2 linked regions of the Homo sapiens genome follow. Each later gene encodes a partner of the first gene's protein in a complex. Links are inferred from orthologs where the notes say so. Each region holds a gene or a part of one and is shown on either strand. Other genes may lie near its edges. The genes, in order: NRP1 and PLXNA4.

Evidence for each region.
Region 2: the proteins of NRP1 (region 1) and PLXNA4 are in contact, whole or in part, in a cryo-EM structure (PDB 7M0R), measured with the Mus musculus proteins. The link is inferred for Homo sapiens from one-to-one orthologs. Residues at the interface, in NP_032763.2 of Mus musculus: Arg80, Tyr84, Asp126, Tyr127, Glu128; in NP_786926.2 of Mus musculus: Glu272, Lys340, Lys343, Lys345, Leu349.

What each region holds. Positions count from the first base shown.
Region 1 is NC_000010.11:33,331,510-33,340,558, reverse strand, and holds the start of NRP1 (neuropilin-1 isoform a precursor), read left to right. Parts: upstream 1-5,891; 5' UTR 5,892-6,176; coding exon 6,177-6,249; intron 6,250-9,049. UniProt on the Homo sapiens protein: Cell-surface receptor involved in the development of the cardiovascular system, in angiogenesis, in the formation of certain neuronal circuits and in organogenesis outside the nervous system. Mediates the chemorepulsant activity of semaphorins.
Region 2 is NC_000007.14:132,572,780-132,582,008, reverse strand, and holds the start of PLXNA4 (plexin-A4 isoform 1 precursor), read left to right. Parts: upstream 1-5,538; 5' UTR 5,539-5,587; intron 5,588-9,229. UniProt on the Homo sapiens protein: Coreceptor for SEMA3A. Necessary for signaling by class 3 semaphorins and subsequent remodeling of the cytoskeleton. Plays a role in axon guidance in the developing nervous system. Class 3 semaphorins bind to a complex composed of a neuropilin and a plexin.

The sequences.
Region 1 (9,049 bases):
GTTGGGGGGAAACTTTTCCTACCCATCAATAGACACATTCCTTAATGTGCTGTAAATAATGGTTGGAAAATTTTCTTTTTAAAAAAGAACATTTATAGAACACCTACTTTGAGTCACTAAAGCTGAAAGAATACCATTCATATTATATTACTACTTCCTTGTGAGTTAAGCAGATTTTTTTGAGTTTCATGAAAAACTAGCCAATTTTTCTAGGAGAATGCCTTCCATAGAAAATGTGCTCCCAGCTCAAATTTTTAACTTACGAAATTATCAAAACAATAACATGATAACAACAGCTTCTCTGGTCAGCTTAGTCGTCCCCGTCAATTTTTTTCTGCTCTCCAGGCACTTTCGGCTCCTCTCCTCCACTGTCATTCTTACTCAAAGGTACGACTTACTTCACAGAGAAAACCAGAGTAGAGAGAAATTGCCCCCCACACCCACCCACTGAAATGACAAACCTTCTTGTAATCACACCCATCAGCTCCTCTTTCCCCACTGCTATAACAGAGGAGCTGTCCCTCTTCCAACTTACGGTAAATCTGTCCATCTGGGCTGTAGATTGTATCCCTTCCTGCCTTCCCAGGCAATCAACACCCGGATTATCTTTTCAGTAGTTTAATCTCAACATATCCCCCAATACTGGATTCTATCCATTGGCATTCAAGAATGTTCACAAGTACCCTATCTTAAAAGCAAACATAAAATAAAATAAAAAGTCAACCTCCCTCCACATCTCCTCCTTCCAGAGCTATCGTCTGTCTCCTCCCCTTTAGTAGAAACTTCCAGAGAGAATTTTATCTTTATGTGTTCTCTCTCTTTCTTTACCTTCTATTGACTCTTCAGCCCATTGCAATCTGACCTCTAGTCCTGTTCCTCCATCGCTCCACTGAATGACTCTTGGAAGAGTCAATTCTCAGTAACCATGATACCACTAAGTCCAATTGCATTCCAGTCCTCATCCGAGTGGAACTCTTGATGGTGTTCCACTCTTGTCCAGAGCTTCCTTTTAGAAATTCCCCCTCTCCTTGACTTTTATGACAATAGGCTCTCCTGGTTTTCCACCTACCACCCAGCTGCTCATTCTCAAGGTATTTTGTTAGCTCACTGTGACAATCCAGGCTTTAAAGGGTCCTTAACTTCCTATCCTGGGTCTCCTGAAATTTCCTCAGCAATTTTATCCATTCCTTCCACTTTGATTGCCATCATCTACATGTCAGTGACTCACAAACTTAAAATCTCCAATCCAAACATCTCCTCTGAATTCCTAACTCATTTGATTGCCTCAAAGACACCAGAAACTGTACCTAACCCCAATCAAATTCATGATCTTCCTTCCAAATTAGCCTTTTGCTAGTGTCCCTTTGCTTACATGAAGGCAATCGCACCCATCAGTGATGAGGGCCTGAATCTTTGGTAACACCCTCTCCTTCATTGGCTTATCCACCACCATCTGTCCAGTTGGACTTTCTCAATACATCTGGAAAGCATCCTTTTCCAATCTCCACCGCCAGATCCTTGTTGAAGTTCTCCTTTAGATTCTACTATGGTTACTTCAAAACTGGTCTCTTCATTTCTTCCCTTGCTCCGCCCATAACCCATTCTACAGGCAACTGCCAGAGTCATCTAATAAAAATGCAAAATGAAATTACATCCTTTGAGAATAAATTCAACAATTCTTAACTGTTGTGGCCATTGTTTGATATTTTTAAAAATTATTTTTTATTGATTTAAAATTTTAGCTATTTACATAAAACTATGATTAAATATTAAGAGGCAGCCAGTTTTCTATTCTGGTTGTTCAAATTATATTTTAAAGATTGCCCTATTTAAAACAGTCCTTTCAAATTTTGAATATGTTCTCTCTAATGATGTCTCTATTGATTTGAAGAGTGTTTCTGTTGGTTATAATTATTTTAATTTTCCCAATTTAAAAGTAATCCAATGAAGGCAAAATCATTTAATATTATTATCTCAGAAAAATAATACAGTTTTCAAATATGGCTGTAACCTCTACTCTAGCAAATGTTTTGAATCTAGTGTGATTCAAAATTTAGCATTATCTTTCTTCATCTTGTTGGTTAGTAAATATACTGTATCACAAAAACTTCACATTGTAACTTTGTGTTAACGTTTTAGTTGGTAGTCGTTTCTCCAATATTTGAGGAATTTTCAAGGTAACTTTTAAAAGGCTAAAAAGGTAGAATCAGAAAGTGAAGATTCATTTGTTTATTTCCTTCCTTCTCTGTCAGTACAAATCAAGGAGATGGCCAAAAATGAGGCCCAGATGACACCTCTTGCATGACACAGTCACTTGACAGAATAACCACTAATAGGCTTATTTTAAACATTAGTTAATTAAAATTCCAACTTTTAATGTTTTTCCAGTTTCACTTCATCTATTCATACATCTCAAAACTAGGTTAGCTCCTACTAAAAATATGGAGCTTGTATTGCTTTTCTGAAATTTATGGGTTTGATGTTTTCAAAAAACTTGACTAGATATGATGCAGTTTGAACTACCAACCCGAATCTCCATATTGCATGAATCTGAAGTACTTTGAGGGAGTTAGTGGCTCAAATGGCCTTCTGGGAGCAATCGATTTCATCTATTTCTGACAAAGGGATGAGAGCTTGATGAAAGGAATCGAGCAGTTACCATCCAGTCTACTCTTACTGATGGGCCACGGTTCCAATCCGACTCAGGGAGCCCCAGCTGAAGGCCTTATTTCTGCAGCACCTCCTAAGTGGGAGTCCAGGAAACTGGGCTTTGCCCACTCACAGCCTCTGCAGGGCGTTCTGGGGGTGCGGTAGAGGACTCTTCCCTTCCCTGGAACTGGGTCCTACCAAGTCCAGGGATTTGTTCTATCAGGAAGAATAATGTGTTCAAGAGACCAAAATAAAATCAACCCGGGAACACTGCCAAATTCTTCCTCTGCCTATCACTTATTCTCGTATAGAGCCGGCCTGTCTCCACGCTGGGGAATTGCAAAAATCTAAAACTGACCCCTCTCACCACTTAGTGGAATCCAACAGCAAAGGAAAAAGGTTGTTAGCAAGGACAATTTGCTCTGTACCAACCCACTGGCCGGCAATTCTCAATCAGTGCGGTAGGGCTCCATTACCCAGCACTGTGAGTGGAAACTAAGGAGTCTAGAAAAACCTTAGATCAGCTAAGAGCAGAGAAATCAGAGGCAGAACTTAAATATGACATTTCCTTCTGAGTCCATAGTGCATCCCTTATTCACTGGTTGGAGAAAGCTGGCAAAAGCGCTCAGCTGGAGGCAGGCGTTTTCTGTGCGTTGAGGCGCCGGAGGAGCCATTCCCTTCGGGAAAGACAAGGTCGGGGTGGGGGCAGTCGCTCCGGAGTGCACGATCCGGTGGCTTTATTTGCTGGCCTGGCGGGTCTAGGCTGGAAAATGCACACTCAGCAGGGAAAGGGGAAGAGAGATTGGCGGCAGTTTTCTAAAAACAACACAGCTCAAGTCTCCCTCGTGTGCCCCCTCGCTCACCCCGCCGAGGCTCAGAGCTATCCAAACGGGCGCTCCGGAGCGAGCGCGGAGGTCGGGTCCCCCCAGGACGCAGGCGGGCCTCCGAGACTCCAGGCCGCCCCGGCCGCCGCTCCCTCCCGGTTCCCCTTCCCTGTCAACCTGCCAGGTCCTGAGAGGCGCCTCTCCCTCCGAGCCTGGACCGAGGTCGCTCCGGGTCACCCTAAATCTGATGATGCCGCTCGCCCGGCGCAGCCGGGGGCTGGGACTGGCGGGGCTGCACCTGGGGAGGCGGCGACCGCGCGCGGGTAGTAGCCGAGAGCCCAGGCTGCCTCTGCGGCGCTCACTCCCCCGGGGTCTGCGCTGGGCGCGGTCGGCGCCCCCGCCTCGCCTCCCGCCTGCCCGCCTGCCCGGGCGCAGGGCTGCCCATGGCTTCGACAGTGCTCCTTCCGCTCAACTTAGGCATTTAACTCCCAGCCCTTCGGTGCCCACTTCCCACCCCGCGCCTCCCAGGGGTCCGACAGCTGAGAAGAAGGAGGAAACTGGCAGAGGAAAGAGGCGCTCGGGGGGGCCGAGTTTCCAACTTGGCGACTGGGAATCCCGAGGCGCGTGGGGAGGAGAAGACAGGCTTGACCCGGGGCAAGAGAGTGGCGAGTGCGGGCTCCGTGGGTGCACCTCCCACTGGCCCGGGAACGGCCTGCACCCCGAGGGGCGCACGTCACTGCTCCCAGCCCGAGTCGCGAGCGCGCAGTCCTGGCCTGGGGCCCGCGCGCCTTGGGCTTTCTCCCTGCCCGCCCCTTTTTCTTCCGCCAAAACCTTTGACCAGAGTCTCCTTGCCAGCATTCCTACCTCCCTTTGGCCAGCTATTTGTGCCAGGTAGGAATCAGGCTGTACTTTGGCTGTGTGTGTAGACGCCAATCCCCAGGAGGCGTGTGACCTTTTCACCTTACCCACAAACTCCCTGGGAGGTGCCCCGTGGGCACTGACCCTTCTCCGGGGCCTGATCGGTGACCGCAACCTGTTTCTTCCCAGAAATGTCCTTGCTTTTCGCATCTACAAACGCTTCCTGCAGCACTTCTCGGAAAACCCTCGGGGACGGGCCTGGGGGGCATCCAGCGGGCTGGGGGCACGAGCCGCTGTGGGAAGTGGGGGTGGCAGGAGCTCCAGGGCCGGCGTGCACGTTGTCTGTGGCCGGGAGCGGACACTGAGAGGGCGCAGCGAAGAGCACCCCTCCCCCGCCACTCTTTCCCTCCCTCGGGATGCACAGAGAAACGGGGGCCGCCCGACCCCTGATTTCCACACCCCTCCCTAGCACCTGGGCTCCCAGACAAGGTTGGGCGGGGTCGGGCGGCGATTGCCCCCCTGCTTGGAAGGCGCAGCACCTCCCACCCTCCGGTGTTCCCTCTGCCCCAGAGGAACGGGCACCAAATCTCGGGAAACAATGAAGCCTCCGCGGCGCGCAGAGGGCACCCAGCCGCGCGCCCTGATGCGGGCCAGGGAGGCCGCGTGGGGCTGCAGCCCGGCCTCGCCCGCCCAGGCGGTCTGTCTTCGCTTCACACCACAGCGACACTGCTGCCCCTCGCCCGGCTTCGCGGTGCGGCTCCCACTCCAGCCCGGCTTTCCCCTCCTCGCCCTCCAGCTCTGGGCAGGGGCGTCCAGGGGTGCCCCGCTGCTCCCCGCCACAGGTCTCAGGATGGCGCGATGAGGAGTGGCAGGGGGTGACCCTGCGTTCCTCGCCGCCGAGGGCGCGGGCCCCGGGATTTGAAGTTGCGAGAAGCAGCCGCCACCTCCCGGGCGCTCCGCACTGCGCGGCGGCGGGATCTGCGCCTGCAGGAGCTGCCCAGCTCTCCCTCTAGGGGTGCAGAGCGAGCACGCGAGGTGGGCTGGCCAGACCCTGCGGCTGGCACTGACCTCCGCGCCCCTTCCTCCGACGCCCGCACCCACGCGACCGGGGCGCAGACTCCCAGCGCCTTCCTTCCCGCGGAGATCCCTGCAGGGTCTCTGGGAAAGACAGACAGACGGACGGGGAGAGCACTCGGAGGGAAAGTTGTTCCTCCCAGTCTCCTGTCAGGCAATTACAGGCGAGCCCAAGCGGGGAGAGGGGCGGGAGGAAGCGAGGGAAGGGCTCCGGAGTGGGGGGAGGCCGCAGGAGGGGAGGCGGGGGTGCAGTTGGTGAAACTCCTCTGTCTCCCGCTCATCTTTTCATTGCTCGTTCCCCTCCTTCCCGCAGACACCCGGACCTCCCCTGGGCGCCAGCTCCGCGGCTCCAACGGGTCCAGAAACAAGCCGGATTTTTTTTTTTTCTTCCTGGAAATTGGCTTTGGTGTGTGTTGCCCTACCTCCCTCCTCCCCCTCCCACCCACAGCCCCCCCCCGGCCTTTTTTTTTTTTTTTTTTTTTTTTGAGACATGGCCCGGGCAGTGGCTCCTGGAAGAGGAACAAGTGTGGGAAAAGGGAGAGGAAGCCGGAGCTAAATGACAGGATGCAGGCGACTTGAGACACAAAAAGAGAAGCGTTCCTCTCGGATCCAGGCATTGCCTCGCTGCTTTCTTTTCTCCAAGACGGGCTGAGGATTGTACAGCTCTAGGCGGAGTTGGGGCTCTTCGGATCGCTTAGATTCTCCTCTTTGCTGCATTTCCCCCCACGTCCTCGTTCTCCCGCGTCTGCCTGCGGACCCGGAGAAGGGAGAATGGAGAGGGGGCTGCCGCTCCTCTGCGCCGTGCTCGCCCTCGTCCTCGCCCCGGCCGGCGCTTTTCGCAACGGTAAGTGACAGGCAGAGGCGCGGGTGACAGCGGCGCCCCGGCTCCCAGCTGCCCGCCCCGGACCGGGGCTCAGGCGGGGCTTCCCGGGATCAGCCGGGAACAACCGACTCCCGGGCGAAGGAAACTTTTATCTGGGAGGAGAGAAGAAGAAATGAGATCAGGCGGTTTAGAGCAGGAGGATTTCAGGTCTTTGGGCTCCCTCCTGACGTTGATCCTTGGGCTGTGGGGCTTTTCCTTACCTCTGTTACAAGACAGAGCTGTCTACCTTCCCAGATCAGCATGCCAATTATCTTAATAATGTTTCCTCCCAAAGGCAATTAGAAGAGACTCCCTTTCAAAAATCTGATGGCTGTTGAAAGTTAATGAACACTTTACCAGGAGATCTTACTTCCTGGTTCCTTTGCTGCTCCCCTAAGCCGTTTCCTCTGGTGGGTGACGGCCAGAGATATCGGTTTGTGGGTTGATGAAACTCCCTCCCCCGCCTTTGTACACCTTCCGTAATCTGTCTGGAGTATGACTGAAAGTTACATAGTATCAATACAGGAATCTGACATATACAGTGTAAGGCACCAGGATATCTGAAAATCCCTAAGCTAGTTGCAGCTTCCACTTAGCTTTTAAAATCACTCACTGTTAAGTAAATGAAAAACTATACTGGGGTCTAAACAGTACCATGTAACCTAAATAATGTGTTTTAAAATGGGATCTGGTTGTAGGCATGTTTGACTTCACACTGTAAAGTAAGTGCAGGCAAGGGTATGCAATTATCTTTACAGTAAGTCGTCAGCAATTGTTATTAACTAATGATCAAATATTTACTTTTGTCTGGCTTAGATTTCAATCACAGTAATTAGAAGAAAAGAACATCCACTACTTACTGTGGTATATTGTTTTAATAAGAGACCGCAAGTGGAGGGCCTCATACCAACAGGAATTTAAATCACATCTTTATGATGGAAGTTAATCTCTCTAATATGCTTTTTCAAGGTTTTGTGATTTTAGCAATGGATTTCCCTCAGCAGCTACCAAGCAGTATTTTAAGAGATGCTTAAAGCAAAACACATGCAAAAAAAAAAATTATGAACATGGAATTCAGCTTATTAATGAGCCCAAGTTGATGGCATTTTTCTATAATCTGGCAGGAAAGCAAGACACAAAAAATTATGAATGTAGAATTCAATTTATTAATGAACCTGAGCTGGTAGCATCTTTCTATACTCTGGCAGGGAATGAAATAGCATTCTCGTCCAACTGAAAGAGCTCAAATGGTTGGACTAGAAATTATAGTAACCCTGTCCTCCACAACTCTTGAGACTAAATCCATAGTGGGGGTGTTCACAAGATAGATTTGAAGCTCAATGCAAAGAGCTATCAGACTTTAGGTTGTGAACTACACAAATATATATGCAGTACACACACACACACACACACTTCTTAGTTTTCTTAGCAGAAATCTGGGGAATGCTGAAAATCTGGCTTTAGTTGTTGAGCTTTACCAGCAAAAGCCATGTCGCTATGCTTGAAGTGACCAGAGCCAGAAAATGCCTCTGTAACTCAGCAGACCTCTCAAAGCCATGTCCACCTCCTCTGAGTAACCAGTGTCTGCTAAATTAATTCATTAACCTTATTTAGGACTAATGGTCCAGAGTCATTAGAAACTGCTCTTTCTTAATCAACTGCTAGAGAGATTGAACAGAGCCAGGGAGTCTAGCAGTCCACATTATCTTATTACACTGTCACTTTCTCAGAAGTCACAGATTAAAGAGCTCTGGTGTGGTACCAAGTCCACCTAAATGTCTTCTGAAGTGACTCTGTCGAGTGACTAGAACCAGTGCTGTTTTATTTCACTCCTGTAACAGATGCCAGACACTACCATGATGTTTGTCCAGAGCTAGAGGAAACTTAATGAGACGAGGTCACTTTCCAAGTTTTCTGCACATTCAAAATAATGCAAGAGTCTCAGCAGAATCACATAACAGAGTCCAACATGATCATTAGCTGAGATTTTGAACTCCAGTTGCAACATCATTTCTTCCTGGCAAAGCTTACACTTTTACAAGCCAGTGCAAAGGAAACCAGCATAAGACTACCCCCAGTCTAAGGAACAAAGTCAGAAGCACCTAGCGATTGAGAAAAACAATATAACTTATATTGTCTTCTTTTTTTAATTTATGGGAAATGATTTCTGTAATGCATGTAGCTTTATGCATTTTTGATGTGCACTTCATCTTTCATTTCCATTTGACCTGGTTTTCCTGTAATAAAATTCTGTAGATTTATAAATTCATGCTGAGAGCAAAGAATGCCATTCTCTTTCCACAGGGAATCTATTAGATGCAGTGTTAAAATCTACATCTACCATTACTGAAAATTTGTGATTGATAGGCTTATATATTTCACTGTTTTCATACCGTTTCTCTTATATAGTTTATGCACCGAATTTTTATTGCTCAAAATTAAGCATCAATAAATGTGGCAGCATTTCAGGCTGAGGTGCTCCAGTATGAAATCCATCATAAAATGTGACAATGAGAATCTATGCTGAACAATATAGGCAGCCCAGAGACTGGTTTACTTGGTTTATTTGGCTTCACTTGAGCATTTTTGAAATGAAGGCTCAAAACTACTTAGCTCACCTTTCCCAGAATGTGAGAATGTGGGTTACCATATGTGATACCCAGACCTGTGTGGTGGGTTATTTTTCACCCAACATTTAGGTAATTAGAATTAATGCCATGTGGCTATTTACTTTTCCTTCTGCCCCGTTGCTTTGATCCGATCTCCAAGCTTGAACAACTTT
Region 2 (9,229 bases), on another chromosome or scaffold:
CTTTCTGGCCAATGGAGTTAAGTCACACCCCCTCCCTCCCTCCATCTCCCCTTACCTCACAATATCCTCTAACTTCTGGTTTCTGCGGTTAAAAAGACAAGTTTTGTTTGTTTGTTTGTTTGTTGTTTTTGTTAGTTGAAAGAGAAGGAAGCATTCTGGAGAGGGGGCAGTGGATGAAAGGGTCTGGGGAGGAAGGGGAGTAAGACTTGGACCATGGGAGGCATGGGAGTTATTTTGGTGCCCAGAGGATCAAGATCCACAGTGTGTGTGTGTGTGTGTAGGAGGAGAGGGGTGTCCTCCCCACCTAAACACCAACCCCCCGGTGTGGCTTGGAAAGCCATGGCACGGCAGCAGAGCTTGCCATGTCCAGCAGTGCAGCCGGGTGGAGGTGCCCTTGCAGAGGGCAACCACAGAGCTGGCAATGCAGAGATGTCCTTCCATCAAATGGCTCATGGGCAGTGGATTTCCAAGAGGGTACTTGTGGTGAATGAAATGGTCAGACTTGTTCCTAAGCACACCCACCAGTGGCGGTCTCTGACATAATGGGAGGAGACAGGGAGGGGTTTTTCAGTGGTGGCCAAAGTTTTATCTGAGCAGAAAAGGCTGGGAGTTGAAATTCGGATGTTAATATCTCTGTGCTGATTTGCACCCACATGCTAGGGAAGCCTGGAACAGTTGGGTCTACTGAGAATACCCAGCCACCAAGTTCAACTTACTAGTAGGCCCTGTGGTGACACAAGGATGTTCCTCCCCTCATCTTCCTTGAAAGGCAGTCACTTCTCCTTTCTGTTTTACTGTTCCATGGTCCAGTCTTGAAGACAGAACCCTTGGCTTAGAGGTCCACTTAGTCCCTTAGGAGACAGATGGAAGAATAAGTTAGTTTGAATGGACTGAGAATCTTGAGAGCTGCTGCCCATCCCTCGAAATGGCAGCATTCAAGGAGGATGCAGATTAAAGGCTGCTGGAGTGTGCTGTGGACATGTGGTGACACATGCAGAAAGCAGGGGCCAGAGGGCACCCTGGCCTCACCTGTGTCACTGCGGAAGGCTCCTCTTGCCTCCTCTGCTGAGCTGTGGGATACTGATGATATTCCTGCTGTCCTGCAGGTGGCGCCACAATTTAGGTTTTTAAGCTGCTGACTGCCTGCCTGTGGTTTTTCTATCCAGTGCAAGGTACAAGACCCAGCCATGGGGGCAGCTCTTGGGGGAAAGAAAATGTCTCTCTAGCACCACCAGGCTCTGGTGATTTATTTAACGAGCAAATCTGGCTTTTATCAACTTAAATAGCAGCACTGTTCCTAGGCTAATAAAATGGTGGTAGCTAAGTGAGGGGAAACTTAAGAGTTTCTTCTCCTCTTTCCTATTAAACTGGTCCTTTTATTCAGCTGTGGGAGATGAACCAATACTTTTTCTGTCTAAACCCAGCAATAAACCCCAACCCAAGTCCCACAGACATAGCTTCTTTAGAAAACAGGACTCTCTGAAGCAATGTGCCATTTAGCTTCTCCCTCTTGTGGCCATGGGTCCAGACAATGACATAACCAGTTTCACGACCAGGCAAGAGGTAGAGGGAGTGACTCACAGAGCCATTGTCAGTAGGGGACACCTAGATGGTCCTACTTGTGTCTCCCTTAGCCCTCACCAAGGGAGAGGGGGTAGAGGAGGTGTGAGAGCCAGAAGATCTTGTACCTAATGCAGAAACACATTTTGAACTGTGGTAAGATGCTGCTTTTGCCTGTGTATTTATTCTTGGGGTGGGGACAAGATAGCAGAAGGCCTACCCTCATTGTATCATTCTATTTGAAAAAAATAAAAAGATACATTCATCTGGAAAGCGACTCTAATTCCCTACATGTGTTTTGTACCTACCTTAGAGTTTCAAAGCACATTAATAAGATGGTATGTCCTTTGAATGTCATTGCAACTCTAAGGGGCGAATGTGTCAGGTGAGAGATGAGGTATCATTGAGAGGACGTGACCCGCTCCAAATTGTAAAGCTGGCCAATGACAGAGCCAGGAGTAGGACATGTGTTTTCTAACTTCCAATGTAGAGGCCCTACTCATCCCACCCCATTCCATTCTCCTAACTTAAGGGAGTCAATCCAATGGGTCATCACTGAAAAAAAAAAATCCTCTACTGCAGCTAATTTGACCCTTTCTACTCCTCCTTCCGATAATATGATAACTGCCCCCTTTGGTATGCCTTTTACCGTGTTATTCAGTGGAAGGCAACCGGGGAAAGGCAATTTGAGATATGGCCCCTGGCCCCATTAACAACGGGAGAGCTCGCTGGGCCCCTCACCTGCCCGTGGCTGGTCCAGCTTTTTGCTGTGTGTCTTCCCTGTCATTTGGCTCTGTTATTACTCTTCAGGCACCACATGGCATTCATTTCTTTGAATGAAAATAAATGACACCACACACTAGGCAGGAGATAAAGAATAATAAACACATTTTATTTGCCACCTCTGGAAAAAAAAAAAAAAAAAGGTCTTTGACTTCCCGTCCATCCATCAGGAAATGGGCCTGGAACTCAAGCCATATTCACACACACACGCACACACACACACACACGCACACACACACAAATACAACCGATATGAGGAGGAAAAAGACAATCAGATTGTATTAAAAATACATGCTAGAATGACTGAGAATTGAGACAGAGTTGTTTTCTCACCTTCCCCCCTTCCTTTCAGCATTTTATGACATACCCTGAAAGCTGAGTGGCCAACAGAAGTTTGAAAGGAGTCTCCCCCGCGCCTTTAATTGAACGATATTCCTTAAGTAACCCATTAGGGACTTTCATGGGGCTATCCGGGCTGTCACTTCTGGAAATGGGCCGTGATGGACCCATGCAGCAATTTTAAAAGGGACACCTAGAAGCAGTGTCAGGATCAGGTGATGCAAACCTTACATGGACCTTGGGGTGACAGGGCCTCCTTGGATTTTGTATCCTCAGTGCCCGGCTGGCCTTGTGCTAATCCCAGTCTTGCAGAGAGAGGCATTTGGCCCTGGGCTTCCTCCACCCTGGAAGGATGTTCAAGAGGCAGTAGCATTGAGTGATTTTGTTATGTGTGTCTCTGGACTTCTGAAACTAACCTGATATTGTGTGCTTTATCTAGAGTCTGGGATTCAGGGTTTCTGGGAAGAGTGGAGTCAGATCAATGTATTCATGTAAGCTTAATAAGATAACTCCTTGCTGCTTTCTGGGCCATGCAAGACTCAGCAGAGAACCAGAGACTAAAAGGGCTCCACGCTGTCTCCTGGAATATCCTTTAACCAAAGAATCAAACATGTGGTTTCCTCCTCATTCTGGCTTGGTTCATCTTCTCATTGGTGAGAGCAAAGTTTCAGCAGGGTCCTCTCTGGGTGGGCCAAGCCTGACCTATATGTGCCGCTCACCTTGGGGCTTGTTTAAGCTGTCATCTCACAGCTCCTTTCAAAGGCTCCCCAATTCACACAACTTCGATTTCTGTGAGAATATAACCCCTATAGGGAGGTATAGGCATTTAAGCCATTATCAGTCATGTCCACCTAATAAGGAGGCTCTGAGATGTTTCGATGGGAGGGACAGTAATGGGCGGGAGTTTCTGGGTGTGAGGACAGTGAAAACTAAAGAAGGGACAGGAGAGAGGAGGCCAAGAGCCATGGGCTCCTTTAGAGGGTCGTCCTTGCTGGTTGCCTATCCCAGGGAATGCTTACTGGACTCTGCTGAAGGTGCCACTTCCCTCAGACTATGGTGGGAGCGGGTATGAGGATGAGGGTGGCATGCACAGAGTTGAGTTAACAGGTGTGGGAATCCCTTCGGTTTCTCTTGGTGGGTGGGCCCATTCCTAGGGGGATCTAGGCAGAGGTTTGGGAGGTAGTGCCACCCACTCCCCATCTTCACTGCCTAAACCAGAGCTACATGGTGATTTCTTTCTTTGGGCTTCAGAAACCACCCTGATGTTGGCATGGTCTGTTCTGGATGTAGTCTAGGATCTAGGGTTTCAGAGAAGAGAGGAGCCAGGAGAGCCGCTCAGTATAAACATGAATGGAAAAGTCAGGTTACCAAGCCAGCTCTGGGGCACTGGCCACTCATGTTCTCTCGTGCGGGCCTTGTGCCCTCAGTGTCCTCGGCCTCCTTGGGTGCCATGTGGGGGTGACTTGGTGGGGTGTTGGGAGGGGTTCTGACTAGCAATGGGTGTATGCCTCAGAGTCAGTGTGCGCTTGTGTCAGCTCTGAGCACCTGAGGGTCCCTCCGACGGCCAGCGCCCAGAGCTGCAAATTCCGAGGCGGCTGAGCGCCTCCCTCTGAGCGCGCGCCGTGCGCTCCGGTCACCCATGTATGCCCCTCTCTCCGCCCCACATCGCCACCGCCAGGGTAGCTCCGTGCGGGCCGAGGGGACCCAGGGGGGTGTCGGCAAACGTTGGTGCGGAGGAGAGCCGGCAAGCCGGGCGGCGGCGGGTGGGAGCATGTAGGGAGGCGCCCCCTGCCCCCTCTGCCGGCCGCTCTCCCTCGCTCTAGATGTCAGCCGCGAGCTCCGAGCCAGCGAGAGCGAGCCAGAGAGGGAGCGGCGGCGGGCGGCGGGCGGCAGGGAGGAGAGGAGGCGAGGCGAGGGAGGGAGGAAGGGAAGCAGGGAGGGCGGGAGGGAGGAGAGGAGGACCCAGAGAGCGCCAGGCAGCTGGAGTTTTTGCAGCGCTTGGCCGGGCTTCAATGCACAGCAGCAGCGAGCCGCGGCGGCAGCAGGCAGCCCGGGAGCTCCGGCGGCGGCCGAGCCAGCGGCGGCCCCGCTCCCTGCCCCCTGCAAACTTTGCGAGCAGCCCGCCCGGGGGGCCGGGGGCGCGCCCGGGAGGCCCGGCTCGGCCCGCGGCCGAGCTCTCCGCCGCCGCAGCGCCAGCCGCCGCAGCCACCACCGCCGCAGCCCCGCGCCTCCCCGGGGAGCAGCCGGCGGCTCCCGCGGCCCCCCAGCCCCGGCCCCAGGGCACTGCCCGGCGAGTGTCTCGGCAAGGGTGGGGGCTGCCGCGGCGCGGCCGGCCGCGGGCTGCCGGGGGGCGGCCGCCGCTACCCAGAGAGGCGCGCAGAGGCGCCGAGAGCGCTCCCCGGCGGGTCCCCCGCGCACTCGCCGCGCCCGGGCAGCGGCCCGACCGGGCGAGCATGGGCGGCGCGGAGTGACGCCGCTGTGCCCGCTTGGCATCAAGGACATTCAGCCCGCGGGGGTGGGGACGAAGGGGGGCAGCCCGGCGTCGCCACCGCAGCCCCCGAGAGCCGCCGCCGCTGCTCGGGCTCCGGGGCTGGGTGGAGGAAAGGGGTGTTCGGAATCGATCCCCATTTTCCGACCTTTTTGTTGGACATTACGCCCACCTTGGACGCCGCAAGAGAAGCTGTCAAGCCCCGCAGGCTCTGATTCGGCGCCCTCCGCGTTCCTCGGCTGCTCCCGGCTTCCCTGTGCCTCGGTGGAGTATTTGCGTTCGGGGCTGGGGCTGGAGGAGGCAGCCACACGCGCGCACACGCACACGTTCAGAGGAGGGCGAGAGGCAGCGGCATAGGCTCCATCTGCAGTGTCAATGCGGCGCTCCCGCTGAAGGAGGGAAACGCGGCGCGTCCAGGTAAGGAGCCGGCCCGCCGGGGAGTGGGGCCGGGCGGGCGGCGAGGGCAGCAAGGTCGGACAGACCTGGGCCGACCCGGGAGTCCTCAGTGTCCCGGAGCCAGCCCGCGGCACACGCACACGCACACACGCAGGCACACACACAGATCCACACCGGCACACACGGCGCTCGCGCACCTGCCCACGTCCCACCTGGACGCCCGCGGAGGTGCAGCGGCCGGAGCAGGGATTTCCCGGGTGTGTTCTCCTCTCACGCTCCTGGACTCAGACTTCTCTTTCCCGGGACTTTCGGGGTGGGATTCTGTGTATTCCCGGCTCTGCCTCCCACCCGGGGAGGTTGAGGGAGCAATTTTTCAGCTCCCAGCCCCTTTCGTCCCTAGCTGGGCTTTAAAATGGGAGAAGTCCTGAGAGGTTTCCGGAGACCTACCCAGTGTCATCGCGGCCCCGTGGCCTTTGGACACCCTGGGATTTCAACGGGAGACAGACCCACAGATATTCGGACGCATATTTGGAGAGAGTGGTGGCCCAGCGCCCGGGGAGGAGGCCAGATAGGCGGTTGGGGCTGCAGTTCTGTAGGGCGGCGCATATGAAACAGACACTGCGTTTCCCCAGTAAGAGGCAGCACAAACGCCTTTCTGAAGCGTGGCACTGCTTCCCCGGGAATGCGCCGAGATTTCAGGCAGAAAGCGGCTTAAAGCATCGCCGCGTATGTTGCTTGTCTAGGGAAGGTACGGGGGTCAGATCCTCCTTAAAAGGTAAGACCTTATTCACAGCCTCAGTGCCTGCTTAGCAGCAAGCAGACAGGACTTGGAGACACAGGACTTGGGTCCCCTCTCACCTCCCTACCCTCCCTGGGCACATGGGGCTGCCTTCCCCGGTGCCTCCGGCTGGCGAACACCTGTCACATGCCTTTCGTGGTGTGTGTCTGAGAAAGAGAACTAGAAGGGGGAAGCACGAGGGATATAGTCCTCCAAAAGAGGAGGCTCCCCTCCCTCACGACCGTGGCGGCACTGCCCACCGGAGAAGGCAAGGCATTCGTGGGTCTGCCAGCGTCCCCCAGAGCCCAAGCCTGCTCCGATTGTAGAATCACTCCCCAGACGCCCGTGCTTTAAGGTCCTATTTCCCGAAAGCATTTTCATTCTTGTTCTCTCTGGCTGGAATTTCACAGGCTGCTCATTTTAACTTTTTCTGGAGGAGGTAGGAAGTGGCTGGGGTTCTAAGAGGCTTTTCCATAGTTCCCTTCTTGGGGTCTAAGAGCAACTAATTTAGGGTCTCAGTTGTCATAGGGAGAAGAACATGAGATCCAAATCAAATTCGGAATTGAATATATATGTACAAGCTCCTGTGTTTCTGGTGCTGTCACTTTGAGGTAGCTTTCTAGGCAACATGATCATATCATTTTCCCACAAAACTGAATAAGCTTGTACCCTCTGTCCAAGATCATGTGTTCAGAGTATCCCACAGACCCACCAGTGGAAAAAATATGTTAGGAGCCTTACAGAACATGATGGAAGAGGAGCAAACATTCTTTTGAACAAGGAGGCCTCAGTGCTAGGCTCAGAATTTGGGTTGTTTTTGTAAATCCTGAAGATAGGGGCTGAATGAAAGGGCTTTTTCAGCACCCTGACTCCGCTATTTCCAAACTTTTTTCAGCTCCTGCAAAGGTCTCTGGCTAGGCTGGGGAGAAGCGCAGACACCCCGGGAGGGAGATTGTATTCCCGCTGTGTGCTGTGTGAGCTGCCCTTTGATTGATTGAAAAGCATAGATGGAATAAAGCAAATCTCTCACAATGGAGAGACCCCAGTAGGGGGAAGAAACCTTATTTGCTTTTTAAGAATGGTGGGCGTGTGCACACACACACCCAATATATATACACACATGCGTTCTCAGAGTCTGGCTAAATGTGGTCAGCTCCCCGCCCCCGCCATGTGTGACAATGGGGTCCACCTCTGTCTTCCGGGCTGTGGAAGAAATGGAACATTTCTCCCCACATGCCCCTTGAGGGCGTGGACAGGCAGATCCCACCTACGCGTACAGCAGCACATGGTTTGCAAAAGAAATAATGAGCTCCAGCAACAGTGGGTGCCTCCCAGGTAAACAGTCCCTCATGGGACCTGGAAGAGGCAAAGGGATAGGGTACAGGATCTTCCTGAAATGTCTGTGTCTTCCCTGTAGACCTCCACTCCTTTCTCTGCTTTCCTCCCTACCCTCTTTCCTTTCTCATGTATTCGCAGCCTCAGGATCCATCATTTTAATGCAAAGCTAGTATCATTATGCTGGTTATAAGCTAAACATCTGGGTTCAGAAAATCTCTGCACTTTCTGCACTTAGCATTAGGTACCAATTTGGTTTCTAGGACAAGGCAGGCATTAATTAACATCTCTGTAAAGCGGAGTATACATTACGTTTTCCTGGCTCTCTTGCCCAGCCCTGGAGCATGCCACGCTGTCATTCACCCTCTCTGCCACTCTTCTGTGCCCTTCCTTTTAAGTTCTCTGAGGTCTTTCTCACTGGGAAGGGAGTCACACTAGAAAAACCCCAGCCATGAATGCTTCTTTTCAGCAGACCCTCGCTGCCTGGTAGACGGTGCTTAAGGCAGCTCTCCTGTGAGCACTAGGCATGGGTCACCTACAAGCTGCTCCTTCTTACCCAATCACGCCTCCCCGGGCTCTCATCTGTCCTCCCAGGACTTCCTCCTGGATGCCCACTGGGACACTGCAGACATTTCTGGAGGACTCCAAGGCAGTCAACTTGTTTCCTTTCTCCTTCTCTGTGCCTTCCTGTCGCCTGCTGCTGCTACTCCCTGCAGACAGGGAAATCTGCACGGCAGAGTCTGCCTACATACACTTGGCCTCGGGATCCTTTTCATCACAATGAGGGCTGCTGGGAATGAAGTGGGGGCTTTCTAGGATGGCAGCAGTCCCGAAGTGGGAGAGAGCTAAAGGGGCTGGGTCATTAACCACTCTTGATTCATAGTTATCATCAGGCTTTGATGCAGAGAAATCGCTGTGGATCTCTCTCCTCCTAGCCAGCTAGGGGGCATTTCTTAGCTGCTTCTCCCCATCCTCACCTAGAGAAGGCATACGCAGACAATGCACATCAGAGACCTGTTGGAGCGGCTCTGTGGTGGGTTACAAGGGGGCGGCAGCAATACAGAAAACACGACCATGATCTTGGCTCTCATTAGACTATGCAACAGATGTGCCAGCGTCTCCTCTCTTCTTATTTGTGTCCAGTGCTACCCAATGTGAAACTGGCTCAGACCCTGGGCTATTGAGTAGGTTCATTTCCCTCCCTTGACACCTCCCTTCCTTTTCCTCCAACCCCCACTTCTCTGCCCCCACCACTTGCTAATCTACCTCTTGGCTTTGTGCGCACATCCGCCAGCCCATTCGCCCTCAAATTTGCGGCACTCCAAGAAATCAATATAACATGAATTTAACGACAGCTGGATGATTAAGTGTTATTTATATTTAAAAGCGGCATTTTAAAAAGACGTCTCACTAATAAATGGCTGTTTGGGAGATGCACATGATTAGGGTAATTGGCCTATAGGCTCTATCGAGCTATGCTTGGTCCACACAGGGCCCTGTGGACAGGACACTGTCTCTTTAAAAGCTGCAAGCTCCACTGCTCCCTCCCC